Linked DNA regions of Homo sapiens: regions 2, 3, 4, 5 and 6 are each linked to region 1. Evidence: fine-mapped expression QTL. A gene starts in region 1. Each other region holds a variant in brackets. All regions are shown on one strand. Distances are between the middles of the regions.

Region 1 (4,085 bases):
CAGAAAGACAAAAAACTCAGGCCCACAAGGACAAGCAGCCCCGCCAAGGACCCCCGGGGGGACAGTGCGCTCTTTTGTCCCCGCCGGGGGCTCCTGAAAGCCCGGCTCCGCAGCCCAGCAGCCTGAATCCCGGCCTTGTTCACGTGCATACGGGGGGCGCTCCGGGGCGGGCCCTCCCCTCCAGCCCCGGCTCCAGCCCTGCTGGGTGCAGCTCTGTCTGCAGCTCTGAGACAAAGGAGCACTTCTCGTCCCTGGCGCCCAGACCTGAATATCAGTCCACTCCGGGAGCGCCTCCGGCGAGCGGGCGGAGGAGGAGTCCCCGCTCCCGCCCAGATCCCGGCCTCCTCGTCCCTCCCCGCGGGGAAGCCGCCCGCCCCTGGGCCTGAGCTCGGCCCGCGGTTCCCCGAGGGCCAGCAGAGGACGCCCCGCACCGCCAGTGTGAGCAGGAAGCCGCGGCAGGACGGAGGCTCCACGCCAGGCCGGGCCCGACACGGAGCGGGGCTCCAGGCAGGGGGCTGCCCGCAGCGTCCTCCCTCTCCGGCTGGACACCGGGGCCCCACTCACTGCCCCCGGCCAGGCTGGGGAGCCACATCCTCCGCTCGGTGCTGTCGCAGGGCGCGGGGCGGGTGACCCCCGGGGTGCCAGGAGAGACCGAGGCGCAGGTACCAGCCGAGAGGAGGGCGCCTGACCCACTCTCTCCGGGCAGGGGGGCAGGTGGGTGGCGAGAAACTTCCAAACCGCACTGGGTCTGATCAGCCAACATGGCTCGGCCGGGGGTCCATCCTCCTGAGTGTGTGGGCCCCACCTTGAGTCCTTCCCTGGCATTGCCCCGGCCCCTTCTGCGGCACCCTCGGACCTGGAAGGCGGGCCTGGGTTCACCTCCCTCCACAGCTGGAGACCCCAGGCCCCCAGGGCGTGATTCTCAGTGGGGGATCCGGGAGATCCGCACCTACAAAAGGGTCTTGAGGAGGTGGAGGGGGGCACCCCAAGTTCACAGGCTGCCTGGCTGGAAGGAAGCCACTGTGGGGACCTGCAGGCACCTGGACGCGGGCAGCAGGGACAGTGGCCAGCACCCTCCCAGATGGCTTCGGGGCCTGGGGCAAACGGTGGCCAAATCGGCTTCCCATCCAGACCCCCTGGCCAAGTCCTGCCAACCACAGGGGCTGCGGGTGCCACCCAAGTGGCCCCTCCATATGCCTCGACTGCCTGAAATACACCTGCGCTGACTTGCTTGGACCCCAAGGTTTTGGAGCTCCTGAATGTCCACTGCGCTGGGCGAGGGGCCCTGCCAGGACCCCACTGGGAGACTGTCCGCGGACGAGGGCCAGGCCGAGTACTTGTGTGGGGCGGGGAGGCCTCGGCTCCTGGCCCGACTCCCTGGGTAGGAGTCCATTGAAGGCAGCGGTGGGGCAGGAGCCTCAGAAGGAACCAACGAACCCAGCGGGAGTTCACCCGGCCGCCCCAGCGGGGGGGCGCTGACCCCACGACGTGTGCTCTAAATCTTCCGGGTCCACAGGAGACGCGAGTCCCGGCTGCGGAACAGGGGAGGGGGCTGTAGGAAGAGGCCACGTCGCTGCCCCCAGGCAGGGTTTCTAAGCTGAGCTGGGGACAGCTACTGGGTGTGGAGTGAGGAAGGCTCTCCCCGCGCCCCCGGCTCAGCACTGTACCAGGGCAAGGCAGGGCCAGCCTGGCCGACCTGGGGTGGAGGGGAAGGAGGCTGAGGGCCAGGTCCTTGTCCAGTGGGGAGCTGGGGGCCAGCATCCCTGTGCCCCCAACACCCTCAACCGAGCAAACTCGGGGGCTCAAGGCTTTCGGGGTGCCCCCACTCCGTAGCCCCTGCCCTTCCTCGCTTTGTGGGTGCGTGCTCCTGCCCCCGCCACTCCCACCCGGAACGCACGCAGCGCGCAGAGCTCGGGGCGGCCGCGATGCCTGCTCTCGCCCAGCCCGGCTGCTCCGGGGCTGCTGCAAGCCGGCGACCCGGGCTCCGGGTGGGCGACCCCCTCACAACTCCACGGGCTCCTGCGGCTGCGGCGCGCTCCCAGCGCACGGAGCCGGGACGGCAGCCGGCGCCTCCCCAGGACTCGCGTGCGCTCGCCCGGTCGCTCAGCCCGCGTCCCTGCCTCAGTCTCCCCACCCAGGAAATGGGTCCAGGGCGCCAGGGCTCCCGCGCGACGCCGACGTGCACTGCTGGGGTCTTCCCGGTCCCCGCCACCCGGCCCGCGGAGACCCCCGGCTCCGGCCCAGGAGCTCCGCGCCCGTCCCGCCCGCGCGCTCACCACTCCCAGGCTGAGGTCCTCGGCGCGCGGCGCGGGTGCGGGCGCGGCGCAGCCCCCGCGGGTCCCCAGCGCCAGCAGCAGCAGCAGCGGCAGCGGCAGCCGCGAGAGTCCGGGCCCTGGGGGCGGCGGGCCGGGTCCCCGGGCTGCGCGGCGCCGCATGGCGCTCACATGGGCCCGCGGGCGGCGTGCAGGGTCCCGCGCCCTCCGCTTCGCGTTCCGCAGCCCGGCGCCCTCCGCTCTCCGCGGCGCCCCCGCCGGACTGAGCCCCGCGCGGCAGCCTCAAGCGGCGGGGCGGGGCCATGCAAATGTATGCTAACGAGGCCGGCCGCCTTAAAGGGCCCGCGCCGCCTCGGACGCTGCCACCCCCGCCCGCCCCGCCGTGTCCGCGACGGGACTGGGTCCGCGGCATCACAGGGAAGGCGTTTCCCCGGGTGTCTTAGGACGCTCTTGGGGCGGCGGGGACGCGCGGGATGGGCGCGGAGGCGGGGGTCGGGGCGCCTGCGGGGAGCTGACCCTGACTCCCCTCTCCGGCCGCGCTCCCGGGTCCACCCCCCACGGCGCCGAGGCCCGGGTTCAGACCCGGGTTCAGGCCCCGGAGCCGCCGCCGCAGCGCAGCAGGTGGGCGCTTGGTGGAGCCCGCGGACCGCGGGAGAGGGAGGGTGGGGCTTGGGGGGCGCGGGGGACTGGAGGGCGAGGGCGGGTGTTGGGGGGGCTGGGGTCCTCGGCGGAGGCTCTGCGGTCCCTGCGGGCCTGGGAGCGAGAATGTTAACTTGTAATGTTTGTTGGAGCGCAGCGTGTGCCTGGCACATGCCCAGGAGTTACATAAATAATTTCATTTACTTACAACATTTATGAGATGAAAACTATGATTTCCATTTCGCAGACAAAGAAACTGAGGCCCAAAGAAATGAAGTAACTTATGGGAGGTCCTGGAGCGGGCAAGCGGCAGAGCCAGGGTCAGAGCCCGAGCAGGCGCTTGTGTGGATTGAACTCGTGCAAGTTGCGTACAGGCTGCCCACCGAGTGGGAGATCTTGGGAGAGGGCAGGGGGTGAGGTTCAAGGGTAACCCTTGCCTTTATTCAGCTTCTCCTCGTGCTGGACAGCATGGCTTCCCCTCCTTCCCAGGCCCTCCTGCTCCACCACCCCAAATCGCAGCTGGTACTGTCAGGACTGAGGTCTCATTCTACGGACAGGGAAACTGAGGCTCGGCCCCTTTTACCAGAACTGGTCTCAGGGAAGTGGTGCCCCTCCCCTCCTGTGAGGGCCGACTCCCCCCAACCACCCCCCCCCCCCCCCCCCCGCTTCCCTGGGTACTCTGGCCCATCCTGTCCCTGCTGCCCTCAGAGCCTCCCTGGCCCGGTCTGAACAGGGTGATTCCACACCTGCTTCAGATGACCTTGGTTCGGACTGATGGGATCACCTGTAGGAGGTGGGGACTTTCACAGGACATCCCGGATTGTTTTTTCTTTCTTTCTTTTTTTTTTTTTTGCTCTGTTGCCCAGGCTGGAGTGCAGTGGCACGATCTTGGCTCACTGTAATTTCTGCTTCCTAAATTCAAATGATTCTCCTGTCTCAGCCTCCTGAGTAGATGGGATTTCAAGCGTGCACAACCGTGCCCAGCTAATTTTTGTATTTTTAGTAGAGACGGGGTTTCACCATGTTGGCCAGGCTGGTCTTGAACTCCTGACTTCAGGTGATCAGCCCGCCTTGGCCTCCCAAAGTGCTGGGATTACAGGCGTGAGCCACCGCACCTGGCCTCATCCGGGATTTTGACCAAGTGCATCAGGACAACCTGGTTTCCAGAGCAGA
Region 2 (4,085 bases), 26 kb before region 1:
GTGAAAGCTTCTCTACTAAAAATACAAAAATTAGCCAGGCGTGGTGGCCTGTGCCTGTAATCCTAGGTACTCAGGAGGCCGAGGCAGGAAAATGGCTTGAACCCGGGAGGCGGAGGTTGCAGTGAGCCGAGATCACACCACTGCACTCCAGCCTGGGTGACAGAGCAAGGCTCCGTCTAAAAAAAAAGAGTGACAGAAATGCAGGCACCTGCATGGCACCAGCCGAGTGCTGGGAGGAGCCCAGGCCCCATGGAGGCTCCTGCCAGAGCCAGCGCCAACTGCCATACGACAGGAGCAAGCCAGGCCCCCCACCATGGTGCAAGTGCAGGGGAGACCAGCGGCGGAGGCCAGGCAACCTCCAGAGAGAGGGAGGGAGACAGAGAGACAGAGAGAGAGACAGGGACAGGGAGATAGAGAGAGACAGATGCAGAGACAGAGACATAGAGTCAGAGACAGGCAGAGACAAGGAGAGACAGAGACAGAGAGACAGGGAGAGGGACAGAGAGAGAGAGACAGAGAGACAGAGACAGGGAGAGAGACAGAGACAGGGAGAGGGACAGAGATAGAGACAGAGAGACAGAGACAGATGGGGAGACAGAGATATAGAGACAGAGAGGCAGAGGCAAGGAGAGACAGAGACAGAGAGGCACAGAGAGAGAGAGTCAGGGAGAGAGACAGAGATAGAGACAGAGAGACAGAGACAGGGAGGGAGACAGAGAGAGACAGGGACAGGGAGAGAGACAGATGGAGAGACAGAGATATAGAGACAGAGACAGGCAGAGACAAGGAGAGACAGACAGGGAGAGAGACAGAGAGACAAGAGACAGGGAGAGGGACAGAGATACAGAGAGACAAGGAGAGAGAAAGATAGAGACTGAGTTGGAGAGACAGACAGAGATACAGACAGAGACAGAGAGAGGCAGAGACAGAGAAACAGACTGGGGGTGACAGAGCGAGCGAGAAGGCAAGGATCCTGCTGCTGTTAAGTGGAGAAGCCGTGGGGGTCCTGTCCTGCAGTCACGGTGGAAGGACCCTGACCCGGTGGAGGTGGAGAGTGTGGCCAGCAGTGGCTCTGTCTCCTCGGCTCCTCCCATTTCTCAGCCGCAGCGGGGGTCCTGCCTGCCTGGCCTGGGCTCAGGGGGGCGGGGTGCAGAGCCACCCTGGCCCATCACAGCTTGGGGTGAAGCAGCCCAGAGCCAGCCGCCCCGCTGCAGCCACGGCGCCCTAAAAACGGCCCGGGAGCTGGGAGGGGCGGCCCTGGCTTGCGCTGTAGTCACACCTGTGGGTCCAGCTCGGCTGCCCCGGAGCGGTGTGCTCTGGCGTCCTTAGGATTCCCACGAGAGTGTCCTGCTACCTGCGGTCCCTCCGCCTGGGCAAGGGAGTGCTGCTCTCAGCCCGACCTCAGAGTGTGCCCGCTGGCTTCACACTTGGCTCCGCCCCTCCCTGAACACCTGGGCTCGGACAGCTCTCTGCCAGCTCTGGGCCTCAGTTTCCTCATCTGGGAAACAGAAGTAACCCAGTCCCTCCGCTCAGTGTCGCTGCCAGGATTCAGTGAGTTTGCAGTCGCAGATCGCAGGGCAGGCCCGGCATCTTAGCTGTCACTCATGCTGCTTTGGGGTGATCTGCCTCCCGCCAGAGCCTCCTAAGCCCCCACAATCCACTCCCCACAGGGTTTCTGAAGGAGGCCAGGAGGGTGGCAGGGAGGGACAGGTGCGGCTGGGATCTGGGGCCACCCACCCACCGGGCAGCCTTGGCCCATCCACCCTGGATGTTATGCACTGAATGTCTGTGTCTCCTCAGACATCTTTGTGTGTGTGTGTGTGTGTG[TGC/C]GTGTGTGTGTGGTTTTTAAGTTTTTAGTAGAGATGGGGTCTTGCTGTGTTGCCCAGGCTGGTCTTGAACTCCTGGGCTCAAGCGATCCTCCTACTTTGGCCTCCAAAAGTGCTGGAATTACAGGCATAAGCCACCGTGCCCGGCCACCAGTCACATTTTGAAACCATGACCGCTAGTGTGATGGTGTTAGGAGGGGGCCTTTGGCAGGCGATTTGGGTTAGATGAGGTCGTGAGGGCGGAGCCCCCACAATGAGATTGGTGCCCTGGTAGGGGGTGAAGGGACCAGCACTTTCTCTCTCGGGCTTGTGAGGACACAGTGAGAAGGTGCTGGCTTTGAACCAGGAAGCGGGCCTCTAAGAACCTGACCCTGCCGGCATCCTGACCTCAGACTCCTGCAGATTGGTGGGAAAGCAAATGCCTGTGTGGAAGCCGCACAGTCTATAGCAGCCTGTCACGGCAAGCTGAGCTAAGACACCGTGCCTCAGTTTCCCTCCCTGTAACACGGCAGCTGGAGAGGGTGTGTCCTGGCCTCAGAGGTCACCCATGTGGAAGCCGCATGGTCTACAGCAGCCTGTCACGGCAAGCTGAGCTAAGACACCGTGCCTCAGTTTCCCTTCCTGTATCATGGGAGCTGGAGAGGGTGTGTCCTGGCCTCGGAGGTCTCCCATGCAGAGGCGTTGTATAGCACCCATGGGGCTGTGTGTTTTTGGTCAAAAGCCTGGGTCACGCTAAGGGCAGCCAGTGCCTTGGCCCGGCCGTGTGGCTCAAGAGAGACCCTGGGCCTCCAGGCTGACCTCCCTGGGGTGGAAGGAAGAAGGGAAGAGGTCCTTGCCCCTCACTGGGGTGGCGTGGGTCCTCTGACCTCCTTCGGAGGGTTTTGACTGTGGCTGTGGGCTGGCGATGCCCTGCCTCCTGGGCCTGGGGGCACAGCTTCTCCAAGTTGGGCCAGCACAGCCTGAGGTATAAGCAGTGACTCTGAAAATCCAGAACGTCACGTGAAGTCTCCAGGTGTTTAGATGGTGACTCAGGCGAAGATGGAAAACTGCCTGCTGAAGACACAGAACCGAGGTCCCATCACGAGGAAGGTGCAGGCGGACAGGCCGGGGGCATGGACCACAGAAGGACGGGCCGGCAGCCCTCATAGGTGCGAGGTCACAGGGGTCGGGGAAGGCCCGGGAGCTGTGCCGGGCCAAAGAAGGCTGCCCTGGGTGAGGTCTGTCCCTGCAGCATCCTCTGATCTGAGATCCACTGGCTGCGTGTCTTTCCCAACTCTGACCTTGGGAGGACACCTGCGTTCCAGGAGACACAGAAGCGAGCTCAGGGTGGTCAGCGCCTCCCAAAGGATGCAGAGGACTCTCATGCTGCGGGTGCAGCTTTCTATGAACATGAGATCCTTTCCACAAAACAACACGCCCTGCCCGCGTGTTCCTCATCCGAGACGCGCAGGACCAGAAAAGTGTTTTGGAGCTCAGATTGTTTGGAGTTTGGACACTATATTTGCATTATACTTACAGGTTGAGCATTTTTCTCTGCTTTTCTTTTTTCAAATACTGCCACTTGGCCAGGTGTGTTGGCTCATGCCTGTAATCCTAGCCTCACCTCAGGGAGGCTGAGGCGGGTGGATCACCTGAGGTCAGGAGTTCGAGACCAGCCTGACCAACATGCTGAAACCCTGTCTTTACTAAAAATACAAAAATTAGCCAGGCGTGGTGGTGCCTGCCTGTAATCCCAGCTACTCGGGAGGCTGAGGCAGGAGAATCACTTGAATCTGGGTGGCGGAGGTTGCAGTGAGCTGAGATCTCACCACTGCACTCCAGCCTGGGCGACAGGCTCTGTCTCAAAAAAAAAAAAAAAAAAAAAAAAAGTGAAATCCCAAATGTTCTGTGTGCACCCCGAGCCCATCAGTGCTCAAAAGGTCTTGGGTTTTGGGGATTTCCGACTTTGAATGTGGGGTCAGGGTAGCCTCAGCTGCATGTGCATATCAAAAGGTGGGGGCTCATGAAATGCGTCATGGGCTGGCGGGGCTCCAGGCCCTGCCCCAGGACCCAGCACGGCCACCCCACTGCCAGAGGGAGGTGGGCTGCAGCATGGAGAGGCAAGTTCAGAGCAGCCCCCCTGCCCCGCCTACGGTTCACCTCTTCACCAGAGATAGGACCGGCAGAAGAGGCTTATGACGGAGAGTTTGGACTTCAAAACCGCAGTGAGCCCTGCCAACGTGAGAGCCCGACTCAGCAGACAAGGCCCACAGCCGGCTT
Region 3 (4,085 bases), 590 kb after region 1:
TTTGAGATGGATTCTTTGTCACCCAGGCTGGGGTACAGTGGCATGATCTTGGCTCACTGCAACCTCTGCTTCCCGGGTTCAAGCAATTCTTCTGCCTCAGCCTCCCCAGTAGCTGGGCTTATAAGCACTTGCCACCATGCCTGGCTAATTTCTGTATTTTTAGTACAGAGGAGATTTCACCATGGTGGCCAGGCTGGTCTCGAACTCCTGACCTCAGGTGATCTGCCTGGCTCAGCCTCCCAAAGTGCTGGGATTATAGGTGTGAGCCTCCAGGCCTGATGGAAAGATTTTATCAAGGCCACACATCCGGTGAAAGGAGAGCCAGGGCTCCACCCCTGCTGCCTGACTCCAGGCTCTGCCCAGCTACCCAGGAAGTGATAACCTCTCCTAGGGAAATGCAAGTTGACTTAAAGAGCCATCCAGGGAGGCTGAGGTGGAAGAGCACAAACAGCACGGTGGAGCTACAGTAGGTGCAGACTCGCAGGACCCACAGTGGGGCTGAAACAGAAGAGAAGAGAGACAACGTGTCCTCCACTATTGACAATGGTAAGGAACGCCTCAAGGTGACATGTCTTTCTATGACAGCCTTCCTTGAAAGAAGAAATTCCTGTCTAGAAAACGTAATAAAAAGAGGATTAAAGGTAAGTTGAGGGAAATGTTGCATTTTGATATTTACCAATAAACAAGCTTTCATGGGGCTGACACAGCAACAAGGCTCAGGATTATACACGCAGGCAGTTTATGAGTGCCTCTTCCCATTCAGAATCCTCAAAAGTGTGTAATTCAAATTCAGTGACTTAACGGATGGTGAATAAATATAGACCTGGAACTCAGCGCCCAGTGGAAGCCTGCTAAGAACTGGAGAGATGCAAATGAAATTGTTTTGCTTTTCATCACCCGTTGTGACTTCTTTTTTTGTTTGTTTGTTTGTTTTAGACAGAGTCTCACTCTGTCACCCAGGCTGGAGTACAGTGGCCTGATCTTGGCTCACTGCAACCTCCACCTCCCGGGCTCAAGCGATTCTCCGGCCTCAGCCTCCTGAGTAGCTGGGATTTACAGGCATGTGCCACTGCGCCCGGCTAATTTTTGTATTTTTAGTAGAGACAGGGTTTCATCATGTTTCCCAGGCTGGTCTTGAACTCCTGACCTCAGGTGATCCATCCACCTCAACCTCCCAAAGTGCTGGGATTACAGGCGTGAGCCACCGTGCCCGGCCTCCTGTTGTGACTTCTGACATATGGTATCCTACACCTGACATGCTTGGCGAGGATTACTTCCTGAGGAAAACAGGTCTTCCATTTGGGTGTGAGCCCGGGGACACTTCAGGACCCTGTGACCCCTCAGCCTCCCAAGAGAGGAACTGAGCTTGGGGGCTGGGGGTGTCAGCAAAAACAAACATGCTGTTCTCGTGGGAAGCTTTGGTGGACCAAGCACAATCATCAGACCCATCTCCAGAACCATCCTTGAGGCTCATGTCTTCTTGCTGCTTTTCCACTGGAATTCAAACTTTTAAAGCACAGGAATAAATTGTGGACAGAGAATTCCTTTTTTATAAGTACTGAGAGCATAACAAGGCACATCTTCCGGAGATGTAACAGTGCGTAG[C/A]CGCAGCAGCTCTATGGGCAGAGAGCCCTCAGACCCTGCAGCAAAGGACACTGTGCTCTGCCTGGATTCCTCAGCACCTGGGTGAGCTGCCCGCCCTTGGTCTCCCCCCATAGTGGGCCTTACACCAGTGCCCATCCCTCTCCAGGCACAGACCTTGTGGGAGGGACGCCCGGACATCCCAGCTAGCATCGGTGTCGGGGACAGTCCTGGTGGTCCTCAGTGAGGAGCCCAGAGGGGCAGAAGGTCATGAGAGAGAAAGAGAAGAGCAGCAGGATGGGGTGGCGGATATGGGGTGCTGGGGACCGGGTGAATTCTCAGATCATCCACTGACACAGCCATGCATCACAGGGCCATGGATGCCTCCGTCCATGCTGCCATTTCCACTGGCCTTTCCCACAGGGGAGCCCGGGGGCCCGTGTGACCGTGAGAGGGGGTTGTGTCTGGTGGGTTGAGCTCAGAGCACGCTGGGGAAGCTGCACCCTCGTCTTCTTTCACCTGCAGCCAGGACATTTTCTGAGGCCTCTGAGGCTGCTGGCCAGGCCAGGGAGGTTTCTGCAGAGCAGGGCAGAGAGCGCCTGGCTCCGGTGAGAAAGGGGCTGTCAGGCCAGGCGCAGTGGCTTACACCTGTAATCCCAGCACTTTGGGAAGCCAAGACAGGTGGATCACCTGAGGTTGGGAGTTCCCGACCAGCCTGACCAACATGGAGAAACCCCCATCTCTACTAAAAATACAAAATTAGCCGGGTGTGGTGGTGTATGCCTATAATCCCAGCTACTCTGGAGGCTGAGGGAGAAGAATCGCTTGAACCTGGGAGGCAAAAGTTGCAGTGAGTCGAGATCACGCCATTGCACCCCAGCCTAGGCAACAAGAGTGAAAGTCCATCTCAAAAAAAAAAAAAAAAAAGAAAACACAAAAAGAAAGGAGCTGTCAGGCAGGTGGCCAGGCCAGGGAGGTTTCTGCAGAGCAGGGCAGAGAGCCCCTGGCTCGGGTGAGAAAGGGGCTGTCAGGCAGGTGGCCAGGCCAGGGAGGTTTCTGCAGAGCAGGGCAGAGAGCCCCTGGCTCGGGTGAGAAAGGGGCTGTCAGGCAGGTGGCCAGCAGCCCTGAGCCTGGAGATGGGGATTCAGGAGCCCACCTGCTGCTCGGCTCAGAGCTGAGAGGAGAAACAGCCCAGAGGAACAGCGGCCTCCCCCATCCCAGCTCACGCAGAAATGCATTGGAATGTCAGGAAATTGTGTGTATTTGATGTATTTTACCTGTTGCCTAGAGAGCCCACACAGTGACGCAGGTGCCTGTTTACATTGGCTGATTGCCCGGACTTTGGAAATGCAATTATCCCCCACCACCCCCTCAGCCACTTTCTCCAGCGGACTAGGAGGGGCTGAGTGGTGCAGCCTCTGTGAAATGCTTGGCCCAGGAGAAAGCAATTCCAACGGGGCTGTGACAGCTGAGGGGGAAGGTGTGGCTGCGCAGAGCCCATCAGGGCTTGTTACTGGAAGGAGAGGGAACAAATGCCAGGCAGGCAAAATGACCCAGGACCGGCGACCACAGGCCCCTGTGGCTTCAGCAAATGCAGCTGCTTCCATTTGGCTGCAGACAGAAGCTGGATGCACGTCTGTGACCAGAAATGGACCTGCCCCTTGGTGTCCATGACAACAGCCCCTCAAAAGCAGTTCTGAACTAATCCTACCTGGCCCAGGTGTGGCTGCGGTGAGACGTGCATGGCATGCGGGTGCCCCACGCTGGGACAATCCCTTTGTTGAATCACAGAAGATGAATTAAGACAACATGCTTGGAGGTGCCCTGGGGACACAGAGGAATTAAGGATGAAAATCGCCAAAGCCAGGCTGGAGAAATTAATTTCAGTTGTGAGCACACGGTCCAGGAGGACTTATTAAAGCTGAATGGAAATTAAATCCTGACATTCCAGGAGGGCACTAAAGCACCTAATGAGAAAGAGGGGACACACACAGCCAGGCAGCACTAACATGAGCTGCAGGTAACCAGGTGCAGGGCGGTGTGGCCTGGGTCCTAGACCGGTGGACAGCCATGCCGGACAACTTCTCCTGGCTGACTAAAGTCCCAGCCATGCCCAATCTGTACCACCTGTCCTGACTCACGTCTCACCGCTTAACAAACCACCCAAAAAATGCTGTCACTTCAAACAAAATCAGTAATCCATCATTTCTCACAATTCTGTGGTCAGGATCTTGGGCAGGGCCCAGCTGGGTGGCTCTTCTGCTGTGGCGTTGCCTGGGTTCACTTCCTCAGTTGCATCCTGCTGGTGGCTCGGCTGAGCTGGAAGATTCTGGAAGGATTTTACATGCCTGCCAACATTGTTTTCAGGATGATTAAAAATAGCCTGTCTAATCCATCATCAAGGCCTCAACAGTTACCATGGAGACCACTTTATTACCAAGAGGAGAATTCAGGGGAAGCATCTGTCAAATGAGCGAAGGCTGTCAGGCGTTGACTTCTCCTCC
Region 4 (4,085 bases), 210 kb after region 1:
TGGGAGGGAACCCTGGGCTGGGGGAGGCTGTTCCCCAAACAAGGCCACCTTGTGTAGCTCTCTGAGGGCCTTTTATAATCTCCTTCCCTCCCCCAGGACAGCCCAGCTGCAGCCCCTCCTCACCAGCGACCCCTGGGCCCTTTGCCTCGGGGCCAGGCAAGCGGAGAGCAGAGAGCAGTGTGTGAGGAGGGAAAAAAGCCGGACTACAGGGACCCCAGCCACCCGCCAGCCCCTACCCTGCAGCCTCTCCTGCCAGAGGCCGAGGCTCCTGAGCTGCCCCGTGCAGGGAGTGTGGCCAGGCGAGGCTCCGTGGAGTGCAGGAGCTGCGGCAGCAGGAGAGCCAGGAGGAGGCTGTGGCTCTTGCCCAGGCAAGCAGACATGCCAGCTGTACGCAGTCCTGGGCCACGTATCGTGTGTGGTCTTAGGAAATGTGAGTGTACACTTGGTGCGTGCCTGTGTGTGCCCATGTGCATGTGTGTGTACACAGCCTCAGCCCACATATCATGTGTGTGAATTCAGGAAACGTGTGCGTGTGAGTGCATGTGTGTACATGCGCGTAGGTGTGCATGTGCCTGTGTGTGTTCTCATGTACACAGCAGAGCTGTGGGTCTCAGCCCCCGCTGCAGGCTGGAACCCCCTGGGGGTGTGGTGGATCTGGAACTTGGGAAGCAGCCCGGCAGCGTCGCCCAGAGCTGAAGATCCACTTACCCCGACCCAGCAGTTCCACTCCGGGGTGTCTGCACCACAGACAGGGGCATGTGTGTTCACCAGAAAGTGCTCTTAGCGGCACCGTTCGTGAGCGCCAGCCTGGAAATTGCTGCAATGCGCGTTAATCGTGCAGTGGGCACGTGAGCGGGAATGGCCATGCTGGGCCTCCCTGTCCAGGGGAGCCCTGACCCCCTCTCCCCTGCCCCGGGGAGAGGCTGAGGAGCAGTTTCCAGGCCTGGGAGGGATCTGGCCATCCTGGGAGTGACTGGGGAGGATGGAGAGTGCTGGCTCAGCCCACAGTGACTGCACAGCTCTCCCCGCCGCCTCCTCCTCCAGGAACAACAAGGGCCCTTGTGTCCGCCTCCCCCAGGGACAGTGCCCCAGTGAGGAACAGAGCCTGGCCTGGGAGGTGGCCCCAGGGCAGGCCTGGGTCCCAGCGGTTAAGTCTGGCCTCAGCCCTGGGGCTCTGGGCGGGGCTGCAGTGAGGGGATGGCGCTCTCGGTGCACCAGACTGGAACTTCTGCCCCCTCCCCGGATAGCCAGCTCTGCCACCCGCTGAAAAGGGTCCCTGGGCTGTGGACAGGCACCGTATCATGCTCTGCTATGTGGTCCTGAGGGGGACAACAGATGTCCCTAGGGTCCGTCCAGGACTCACCTGCCTGTCTCTGTATTTCTCTGCCAGGTCACCCCTACTTGGTGCACGTGATTCACAGGTGGGAAGCCACGCCTCCCAATCAGCATATTTCATACTGTGGTCCTGGGATTGGCTCAGGCATGGCCATGTGACCCAAGCTGGTCCAATGAGAATGTGCCCGGGACTTTTTCTGAAACCCCTGGGGAAGGGAGGCTTTGCCTCGCAGTTGCTCAGTTAAGAGGAGCTCTCTGAGGGCCATTTCCAGGCCGCCTTCCCCCATCAGGGACACAGGCAAAGTGCAAGAGCCCTGAGGATTTCCAGGGCTACAAAAATGTTTTAATTTCTTTTAAAATTAGAAGAAAATATGAGCTCTTAGGTCAAAGAAATATTAACCTATTCATCTTTGTACCAGTTGTAAAATAGAAGCTTAAAGGTGATTTTATGGAGGAAGGAGCCCACGAATGCAAAAGGGCCCAGGGCCCATGGAAGCCGCGTGCAGCCCTGTCTCTGCCGCCGCACAGGAGGGGGCCTGAGATGAGGATGGTGAGCTGACGGCCAGGGCCGGGTGAGGGTGACGCCCGGGC[G/A]GTGCCAGCCATCCACAAAGTCCTGCTGTGTGTGTACTGGCGTGGGCAACCTCATCAGAGCCCCACGGCACCTCACCATGATCGTTTCACAGACGGGGAGAGCGGGACCCAGAAAGGTTAAGCAATGCCACCAAAGCCACACTGCTTGAAAGTGGGAGAGCTGGGTCTTGAACATTGAGTTTGGCTGCGGAGTCTGAGCTGGGGAACCGCTGAGCTGCTTTCTGTCTGAGGGCAGGGTTGAGCCTGGGCCTGTCCTGATGCTGCCAGCCCCTTCTTAGGGTGCTCAGGTGAGGGCGTTGGTGAAGCCCCCTTTCTGTCACTTGCCTCCAAGACAGCCCAGATGACACACATGTGGAGCAGGGGCAGAGGAGAGCTGGGCAGTGGCTGCACCAGCCAGGAAGCAGATCCTGCTCCGCCGGGATATCAGACTATGTGGGCTCTGCAGCATTCACGATCCTACACTCCCACTCTGGGGTCTGGTGAGTCCTCCCCCTGCAGCAGGAGAGCAGGCTTTCCCAGAAGGTGAGCCCCACTGCTGTCCAGATGTGTGATGGCAGCTTCCTGTGAGGAACCAGACATTGTCCAATTGTGGGGGGTCTGGCTTCTTGGAGGTTTGCAGAGTGTGGCAGGTGTGGAAAAACTTGAGGCCAAGGAAAGTCCTTTCGAACAGGATTAAGCAGGTGGCATGTTGGTTGTGGTGATTCCAGTACTGTGTGCGTGTGTGTGTGTGTGTGTGTCTGTGTGCATGCACGTGTCTGCACATATGCATTCATGTATGTATGTCTGGGTCTGCGTGCGTGGGTCTCTGTGTGTGCATGCATATGTGTATATGCATTGTGTGCCCATGTGTGTGCACATCTGTGTGCACCTGTTGAGCCAGTTCTGTGAGTCCCCCTGAGGGCCAGGAGGCCGTGGGCAGGGCTGGTCCTGGAGAGCACTTTGTTTTCTTCTCCACACACTTTGGGTTCCCCCGCTGAGTGCACCCCCTGCATTTGGCTGGCTGCTTTCACCCCAGCCCCGCTCCTCCTGTGCCCAAGAACCTCCTCCTCGTCTCCTCCTCTGTCACGCAGCTGGTGCAGCACACCAGGCCTGCACTGAAATGCATCGGGGAGCAAAAGGGAGGTGAAGTCAAACATCCCATCTGCTCCTGTCCACGTCTTCAGGGTCACTGCCAAGTTCTGACACTGCCGACTCCCCACATTGAGGGCAAACAGCCCCCCCGAATGCAAATCTCACTCCTTGTTTGCAGTCACTGAGAAATTCTTTCTGGAAGATGTTTATTGTTTCTCCTTCGCTCTGCAAAATCATCAGTGTAGAGAGGATGTCTTAGGAGTTTCCAGAATAAGGAAACGAAGGAGCAGCGACTCATGTGGGTCCTCTTGGGATGGCTGAATGGAATGCAGAGAGGGGAGGAGAGTGGAAAATAGAGCATGCATTTTGAGAAAATTTCGAGCAGTTTCTCAGAAGCCTTGAGCCTTGGAGGAGGCAGAAAGGGAAATTATTTTCAGCTTTGTGTATGCTGTTTTCCGAGGATAGCACTTGTCTATCAGAGGCTGACTTCCTGAAGACTTTATCTATCAGATTAGAAGCCTGTATGAGAGCCTAGGTAAAAATGCAAATTCCTAGGTCCCAGCCCAGACCCTGGGATCAGAATATGGAGTGTGAGAGACCCAGGTTCTTGCGTCTCTGCAGCCTCCCACGTGATTCAGATGGTCGCTAAAGTGGGAAGACCAGGCTCCTGAAAGAGCGGATGGCATCTGCGCAGTTGAAGCATCGTTTGTCCATTCACTCATTCAGCAAATGTCACTGAGTCTCTTGAGGTGCCAGCGCTGTCTCTGGTGCTGAACCAGGGCCCCGCGCTCACGGCATTCACCTTCCAGTGGAGGAGACAGCTTGTATCTGAGGGAGTCCCCCAGCAGTCAGAAGGGACACGACGGGTTAACTGAAGAGGGCTTAATAAAGGGCAGGGGTCGGGACCGAGGCTGTTTATGCCAAGATGGCAAAACCCAAGAGGTCTGTGGGTGGCGACGTCTGAGACTCTAGCGGCCGCCTGGAGCTTCCGAGGCTCACCAAGAGCAAACCTGAATTGCTTTCCAGGCCACATGTCCATGAACAGCACGTGCAGAAGCAACACCCGGAGGCCTCTCCACTCCCCAGGG
Region 5 (4,085 bases), 87 kb after region 1:
AAGCCTTGGCAGCTTCCATGTGGTGTTGAGCCTGCAAGTGCCCAGAAGTCAAGAACTGAGGTTTGGGAACCTCCATCTAGATTTCACAGGATGTATGGAAATGCCTGGATGCCCAGGCAGAAGTTTGTGGCAGGGGCAGGGCCCTCATCGAGAACCTTTGCTAGGGCAGTGTGGAGGGGAAATGTGAGGTCGGAGCCCCCACAGAGAGTCCCTACTGGGGTACTGCCTAGTGCAGCTGTGAGAAGAGGGCCACCATCCTCCAGACCCCAGAATGGTAGATCCACCAACAGCTTGCACCGTGCTCCTGGAAAAGCCACACTCAACACCAGCCTGTGAAAGCAGCCGGGAGGGAGGTTGTACCCTGCAGAGCCACAGGCGCGGAGCTGCCCAAGACCATGGGAACACACCTCTTGCATCAGCGTGACCTGGATGCGAGACATGGAGTCAAAGGTCATTTTGGAGCTTTATGATTTGACTGCCTTGCTAGATTTTGGACTTGTACAGGGCCTGTGCAGCCCCTCTGTTTTGGCCAATTTCTCTCATATGGACGGTTGTATTTACCCAATGCCTGTACCCCCATTATATTTAGAAAACAACTAACTTGCTTTTGATTTTATAGGCTGGTAGGCAGAAGGAACTTGCCTTGTCTCAGATGAGATGTTGGACTGTGGACTTTGAGTTAATGCTGAAATGAGTTAAGACTTTGGGGGACTGCTGGGAAAGCATGACTGGTTTTGAAATGTGAGGATGTGAGACTTGGGAGGGGTGAGAGGGGATGATATGGTTTGGCCATGTCCCCACCCAAATCTCATCTTGAATTATAACTACCACTATTCCCACATGTTGTGGGAGGAACCTGGTGGGAGGTGACTGAATTATGGGGGCGGGTCTTTCCCGCATTATTCTTATAATAGTGAATGAGTCTTATGAGATCTGATAGTCTCAAAAACAGGAGTCTCTCTGCACAAACTCTTTGCCAGCTGCCATCCATGTAAGACATGACTTGCTCCTCCTTGCCTTCTGTCATGATTGTGAGGCCTCCCCAGCCATGTGGAACTGTAAGTCCATTAAACCTCTTCTTCTCCTCCTCAGTCTCGGGTATGTCTTTATCAGCAGTGTGAAAACAGACTAATATAAACCATGAGGCTATCCATATCACAACACAGAATGGTTTCCAATGATCTGTTAATGGGTTCTTATATGCCAAGACTTACAATAAAATCACTTAACATGCAGTCCATCACAACCACACTGTATTTTGTTGTAACCTCCCGACGACCTAGTATCTTAAAAAAAAAAAAAAGTCCCCCAACAAGAGAAGACTTGTTTTGACATCACCAAATTGGATTAGGGAAACCTGAATGATTTCTGTAGTGATGCAAGATTACTCATTTGTCAAACTGGGAAACTACCAAAATGAATCCGTTTTGGGCATTTAACCAGCTATTTGGAATTTTAGCCCACTGTGCTTAAAAGTCACCTCTTTCTGGCAAATAAAACTTTCCTCTAGAAAAAAAAAAGCCTGTCTCTAAACATAACTTACCATTTTCATCAGTGACCCTCAAAGTAAAAAGCTTTCAATTTTTAATGCTGTACTGAGGTTTTGAAGACTTCTTACATAAAAATAGGTTCCAGAGAGTTGTGGGTAAAGAGAGCAAGTGGCTGAAGTGAGACCTGGGCCCCACCATGGAAAGAAGCAGGTGGAAATGCCAATGACCTGCCGTGGGGATCCTGACAGTGAGGAGAACGGGGCTTGTGGACCTGGGGCCCTGCCTGACACATATGCTGTGATACTCAAGAACGTCTCTCCCTGTAGTTCCCTCACTGGGGGAAGGAAATCCAATCTAGGACATTTTTAGAATCTCACAAAAGACAGCAGAGGATAGGTCTTCCCAAGAAGGCTGTTGGAAGGGAAGAAAAAGGTGCTAAGAGAAGGTGAGAGAGCATCAAGGAGAATCCACCCACACCAAGAACACACAGGCTTGCACACCAGGGAAGAAGGAGCACCAGACGGCATGAGACCCTGCACACGCCCCCAGGAAAAGCAGCGGAGGGAAGTAGCATGGCATGTGAATGGCATCTCAGGCTACAGGAGCATGTGACCCGAGGAACCTTTGAGCTCTCTGAGCCACAGATGAATCTGGGAAGACAGGAATTCAACAAAGCACAAAAATAAGGTAACATAACCAAATGCAACAGAGGGGGAGGCTGTGAGGCAGGGTCCAGCAGGCGCTCTCCCTGTTCTTGTACAGCCATCAGCAGAATGGTGTTTACTGTTTTTTTTTTTTTTTTGGACAGAGTCTCGCTGTGTTGCCCAGGCTGGAGTACAGTGGCACAACCATTGCTCCCTGCAGCATGGAACTCCTCGATGCCCTCCCCTCTGCCAACCCCCACACCTCACTCTCCCCAGCAGCTGGGACCACAGGTGTGC[G/A]CCATTATGGTCACTTAATTTTCTTAATTTTTTTTGTAGAGACAGTCTCACTATGTTGCCCAGCCTGGTCTTGACCTCCTGAGCTCAAGAGATCCACCCACCTTGGCCTCCCAAAGTGCTGGGACTACAGGTGTGAGCCACCATGGCTGGCCTGGTTTTTACATTTTTAAATGGTTGAAAAAATACAAACAAACAAAATAATATTTTATGACATCAAAATTGTATGAAATTAAAACCCTAGGCTGGGCACGGTGGCTTGCGCCTGTAATCCCAGCACTTTGAGGGGCCGAGGCAGGTGGATCACGAGGTCAGGAGTTCCCAGCCTGGCCAAGATGGTGAAACCCTGTCTCTACTAAAAATACAAAAATTAGCCAAGCGTGGTGTCGGACGCCTGTAATCCCAGCTACTCGAGAGGCTGAGGCAGAGAATTGCTTGAACCCAGGAGGTGGAGGTTGCAGTAAGCTGAGATCGTGCCACTGCACTCCAGCTTAGGCAACAGAGTGAGACTCTATCTCAAAAAAAAAAAAAAAAAAAAAAAAGAAAAAAAAGAAAAAAAAAGAAATGAAAAGCCTCGTATCCATCAATTAAGCTTTAGTGAAGCCCTGCCACACTCATGGGTCTACAACCATCTGCAGCTGCCTCCACACCCCAGGGACAGAGCAGGGGCTGCATAGAGGCTGGGCAGCTGCAGGGCTGAAGACATGCACCTTTATATAGAAAGGCTGTGGGGCCCTGCTGTAAAGCTTAGAAAACCAGCCAAGGATCCAAACAATACCACTGCAAAACCAATGGAATTTAAACTACAAGGAATAAATAGACATGGCTGAAAAAAGTCGCTGACAGGGAAGATGGACACAGTCCTGCTGAGTGCCAAAGAGAAACACAGGGAGCACAGGCTCGAAGAAAGGTGACCCGAACCAAGAGACTGTGTCCTTCAAGCAGAGGCACCAATGCGTGGGACAGGAAAGGTGCTCGAGGCACAACAGAAAAGAACTTCCCAGAAATGAGAACTGAATCTCTGACTGAAAGGTATACAATATAGTCCATGAAAAATGGGCAATTAAGTTAATAAAAGTTAAGGGTAAAGCAAGACTTCCTCAGATGTGTTGGGTCAGAAAGAGCATCCACCTCCCAGGGCAGGTAGGGAAGACAGGGCTGGCCTCGCCCTTTCCACAGCAACGTTCAATTCCACTTCTGAATCCTAGGCAAGCGACTCGGTGCATCGTTCCCTGCAAATTGCTATTTATGTTAAAAGGCAGCTGAGAAAGATTTTCAAGCGTGAAAAAACTCAGAGAGCAGCATAGGAGCAATGAAAGCAAACCAACCAATGAACAAACCCAAATAGGTAGTCATGACCCATCCAGCTACCCCGGGCCACCCTGCAGTGGAAAGGACAGTGTCAGATTCTAGTTCCCAGAGATCTGAGAGGCCCACAGCATTACCCAAGAGTTTTATACCCAGACAAGCCGTCCTGTTCACATAAAGGTCAAAGGCAGGCATTTTTCGACAGGCAGAATTCATGAACTACAGCCCTTGTAAAAACGTACTTGTTTATGAAATTCAAATGATCAAGAAAAGATGAATCGAATAAATAACTCAAAAGGAGAAGCTGTAGGGAAAAAACGAATCCAGTCAACCATAAAACTAAAAGTAA
Region 6 (4,085 bases), 25 kb after region 1:
CGGTGGTCCGTAGCTTCCACTCTTACATGTCGGCCTCTGAGCCAGTCTGAGTTCACTTTTGCACATGGTGTGAGGGAAGGATGCAGCTTCGTTCTTTACACGTGGCCACGTGCCTTCCCAGCACCGCTTGTCGGAATCAGCACTTTTTTCTCCCCTGAATTGCCTGGGCTTTCAGTTCTGTCCCATCGGTCAGTTCTGCACGGTCCGGGTCCCTGCGCTGTCCAGTAAGTTTTCCAACTGTGAATTGTGAGTCTTCCAACTTTGTTCTTTTTCATGAGTGTTTTGGCTATTCTGGGTACAAATGCTTTTTTTTTTTGAGACGGAGTCTCGCTCTGTCACCCAGGTTGGAGTGCAATGGTGTGATCTCGGCTCACTGCAACCGCTGCCTCCTGGGTTGAAATGATTCTCCTGCATCAGCCTCCCGAGTAGCTGGGATTACAGGCACGTGCCACCACACCCAGCTCATTTTTATATTTTTAGTAGAGATGGGGTTTCACCATGTTGGCCAGGCTGGTCTCGAACTACAGACCTCAGGTGATCCACCTGCCTTGGCCTCCCAAAGTGCTGGGATTATAGGAGTGAGCTACTGCACCTGGCCAGGTTATACACTTTTAATTTTGAAACAAATTTATTTTAAAAAATTGTGAAAAAAGAATATTTTGTGATATGTAAAAATTCTATGAAATTCAGATCTCAGGGTTCACACATAAAATTGTATTGGAACACAGCCACACCCGCTCATTTACATGTAGTCTCTGGCTGCTTTTATGCAACCGCAGAGTTGAATAACAGAAACTGGATGCTCTGCAAATACTAAGATGTCTACCATCTGGCCTTTGCTGAACGTTTGCTTATGCTAAAGACGTTTGTGCAGATATGAGAAATGACTTAGGTACAAGGTTTTTAGAGTAGTGTTAGAGTAGGATCAGAAACAACCCAAATATGCCCCAGAAGAGAACTGGTGAATCAGCGATGCATCATTTATAAAATGGAATATTACACAGCTATGAAAAGAATGAAGAACTTCCCCAGCCCAGAGGCACCCAGGGAGATAGGACTCGATACAAGGTGGGAACCTGGATGGGATCCTGGGACAAAACGAGGACATTAGGGAAACAAAGGGAATCTGAAGTATGGACTTTCAGTAATAATAATGTATCAATATTGATTAATTCATTATAACAAGTGTACCATCCTAATGTAAGGTGTTGCCAGGCGCGGTGGCTCACGCCTATAATCCCAGCACTTTGGGAGGTCGAGGCGGATGGATCACAAGGTCAGGAGTTCAAGACCAGCCAGGCTAACATAGTGAACCCTGTCGCTACTAAAAATACAAAAATTAGCCGGGCATGGTGGTGGTTGCCTGTAGCCCTAGCTACTTGGGAGGCTGAGGCAGAAGAATCGCTTGAACCCAGGAGGCAGAGGTTGCAGTCAGCCAAGATGGCACCGCCATACTCCAGCCTGGGTGACACAATGAGACTTAAAAAAAAAAAAAATGGTGCTAATACAGTGATATAGTGGAAACTGGGTGCCGGTATATGAGAACTGTGTACCGTCTTCACAATTTTTCTGTAAATCTAAAACTGTTCTTAAAAAAGGTTATTATTCTTTGGGAGGCGAAGGTGGGCAGATCACTTGAGGTCAGGAATTTGAGACCAGCCTGGCCAACACGGTGAAACCCCATCTCTAGAAAAATATAAAAATTAGCCAGGCGTGGTGGCGCGTGCCTGTAGTCCCAGCTACTCAGGAGGCTAAGGCAAGAGAATCGCTTGAACTCAGGAGGCAGAGATTGCAGTGAGCCGAGATCGCACCACTGTACTCCAGCCTGGGCGACAGAGTGAGACTCCATCTCAAAAAAAAAAAAAGTTTATTATTAAAAAAATAGGGAAGTTCTTTATGTTCAGATAAGGAAATGACTCTAAGACATACAGTAACTGCAAAAGCAAGATGAAGCTGGCACAGAATGGAAATGATAACACACTTTCCGTGTATAAAGATGTGTATTGGGGCTGGAGGGGGAGAATATATTTGCATATTTGCTTGTATTTATACAAAGGAACTTGGAAGG[A/T]TTCACAAGAAATTCCTGTGTAGCCACGTGAGTGAATCACTTATTCAAGCCAAGTAAAACCCCAAATGTTGGCCCTGAGGTGGAAGTTTTCAGCATTCTTAGCGACTCCTCCCACCCAGTGACCTGCCTGGCCTCGTCAGCGCCCCGTTCCCAAGCCCTTTCCCTGCCTAGCCCCCTTCTCACTCACAGCCCCCAGTGCCTGTCTGGTTCCGTGAAGCTGGTGGAGCGACCTGGCCCTCTCAGCTTGCATTAGGGCTCAGATAGCTGAACGATCCAGACACGGGTCACACCCAGGGACACACAGGGCAGTGATCCAAGCCACGCACCAGGAAACATCAAAGCAAATGGCTTCTGACAAAAGCCAGCCTTACTAAACACAGGTGAAGGAGACAATCTTTGGAGAACAATTTTATTAGCACAGTTTAAGAACCTTAGAAATGATACAGTAAAACTACTATAAATCTGTCCTAAAGAAGGAAAGAATATTTTTGTTGTTGTTGTTGTTGAGACAGAGTCTCACTCTATTGCTCAGGCTGGAGTGCAATGGCGCCGTCTCGGCTCACTGCAACCTCTTCCTCCTGGTTCAAGTGATTCTCCCGCCTCAGCTTCCCGAATAGCTGGAATTATAGGTGTGCACCACCATGCCCAGCTAATTTTTGTATTTTTTGGTAGAGATGGGGTTTCACTATGTTGCCCAGGCTGGTCTCGAACTCCTGGCCTCGAACTCCTGGCCTCAAGTGATCCACCCACCTTGGCCTTCCAAAGTGCTGGGATTACAGGCGCGAGCCACCATGCCCGGCCCCAGAAGGAATCTTTTTAAAGGGGAAAAACTCTAGTTTCCCAGCAGCATCCTTGCCGACAGTGAAAGGCAGGAAGCTGTCTAGATGTCCATGGCAGGAGAGTTAGGCCCAGGGAGGGTGGGGTTGCATCTCACATGGGTGAGGGGTCCAGCCAAAGTCACCCTTGGAAATTTCTTCAATCACCAATAAAGTAAGACATTCGGGGTTTAACATAACAGTCCCTAGCGGTGATAAAACTTTTTTTTTTTTTTTTTTTTGAGACTGGAGTTTCATTCTGTCGCACAGGCTGGAGTGCAATGGCGTGATCTCGGCTCACTGCAACTTCTGCCTCCTGGGTTCAAGCAATTCTCCTGCCTCAGCCTCCCGAGTAGCTGGGACTACAGGTGCCCGCCATCATGCCCGGCTAATTTTTGCAATTTAGTAGACAGAGTTTTACCATGTTGCCCAGGCTGGTCTTGAACTCCTGGCTTCAAGCGATCCTCCTGCGTTGGCCTCCCAAAGTGCCGGGATTATAGGCGTGAGCCACTGTGTGCCTGGCCGGTGGTGAGGAATTACTACAGTGTCATACACACAGTCATGTGTCTTGTATACACTATGCAAAGTCTAATTTTACAGTTTTTTTTTTTTTTTGAGACAGGGTCTCACTTTGTTGTCCAGGCTGGAGTGCAGTGGCTCATTCATGGCTCACTGCAGCCTTGACCTCCCAGGCTGAAGCTATCCTCCCACCTCAGCCTCCTGAGTAGGTAGGACTACAGGTGTCACCACGTCTGGCTAATTTTTGTATTTGTTGTAGAGACGGAGTCTTGCTCTGTTGCCCAGGCTGGTCTTGAACTCCTGGCCTCACGTGATCCTCCTGCCTTGGCCGTCCAAGGTGCTGGGATTAAATCACTGTGCCTGACCCAGTATTTTATTTTTAAAGATGGGGTCAGCTAGGCGTGGTGGTGCGCACCTGTAGTCTCAGCTACTCAGGAGGCTGAGGCAGGAGAATCTCTTGAACCCGGGAGGCAGACGTTGTAGTGAGCTGAGATCATGCTACTGCACTCCAGCCTGGGTGACAGAGTGAGACTCCATCTCAAAAAAAACAAAACAAAACAAAACAAAACAAAGATGGGGTCTCCCTTTGTCACCCAAGCGGCAGCACAGTGGCGTGATCACAGCTCACTGCAGTCTCGACCTGCTGGGCTGAAGTGATCCTCCTGCCTCCGTCTCTCAAGTAG

Alleles and levels. Alleles are on the strand shown, and positions count from the first base shown. SD is a standard deviation of normalised expression in the study named. Not every link is listed here.
For the expression in monocytes after LPS of the gene that starts at base 2,537 in region 1, T is the high allele of the variant in region 6 and A is the other (large effect, 1.2 SD a copy in Quach 2016).

Evidence for each region. PIP is the estimated chance that this variant, and not a neighbour inherited with it, causes the effect.
Region 2: its variant is fine-mapped to the expression of MMP17 in whole blood (INTERVAL, PIP above 0.99).
Region 3: its variant is fine-mapped to the expression of MMP17 in gastroesophageal junction (GTEx, PIP 0.97).
Region 4: its variant is fine-mapped to the expression of MMP17 in whole blood (TOPMed, PIP above 0.99).
Region 5: its variant is fine-mapped to the expression of MMP17 in gastroesophageal junction (GTEx, PIP 0.93).
Region 6: its variant is fine-mapped to the expression of MMP17 in monocytes after LPS (Quach 2016, PIP 0.95). The same link has a PIP of 0.9 or more in monocytes after R848.

The regions. Positions count from the first base shown.
Region 1 is chr12:131,826,845-131,830,929 of GRCh38, reverse strand. It overlaps MMP17 (matrix metallopeptidase 17), which reads right to left and starts at 2,537. Exons shown (of 10, transcript NM_016155.7): 1 at 2,277-2,537. The coding sequence starts at 2,435. RefSeq lists silencers at 294-553, 2,543-2,672 and an enhancer at 201-810.
Region 2 is chr12:131,853,085-131,857,169 of GRCh38, reverse strand. No RefSeq gene overlaps it. Among named protein-coding and RNA genes, the nearest start is that of MMP17, 27 kb to the right of the region's middle. RefSeq lists an enhancer at 685-1,236. The variant TGC/C (reference allele first, on the strand shown) is at 1,828.
Region 3 is chr12:131,233,859-131,237,943 of GRCh38, reverse strand. LOC105370082 (a long non-coding RNA gene) reads left to right here. Exons shown (of 4, transcript XR_945559.3): 4 at 1-4,085. Among named protein-coding and RNA genes, the nearest start is that of LINC02415, 62 kb to the left of the region's middle. RefSeq lists an enhancer at 2,634-3,243. The variant C/A (reference allele first, on the strand shown) is at 1,606.
Region 4 is chr12:131,618,134-131,622,218 of GRCh38, reverse strand. No RefSeq gene overlaps it. Among named protein-coding and RNA genes, the nearest start is that of LINC02414, 28 kb to the left of the region's middle. RefSeq lists an enhancer at 3,633-4,085. The variant G/A (reference allele first, on the strand shown) is at 1,927.
Region 5 is chr12:131,739,852-131,743,936 of GRCh38, reverse strand. All of the region lies in intron 7 of SFSWAP (splicing factor SWAP), which reads right to left. Among named protein-coding and RNA genes, the nearest start is that of SFSWAP, 31 kb to the right of the region's middle. The variant G/A (reference allele first, on the strand shown) is at 2,432.
Region 6 is chr12:131,802,331-131,806,415 of GRCh38, reverse strand. No RefSeq gene overlaps it. Among named protein-coding and RNA genes, the nearest start is that of MMP17, 24 kb to the left of the region's middle. The variant A/T (reference allele first, on the strand shown) is at 2,069.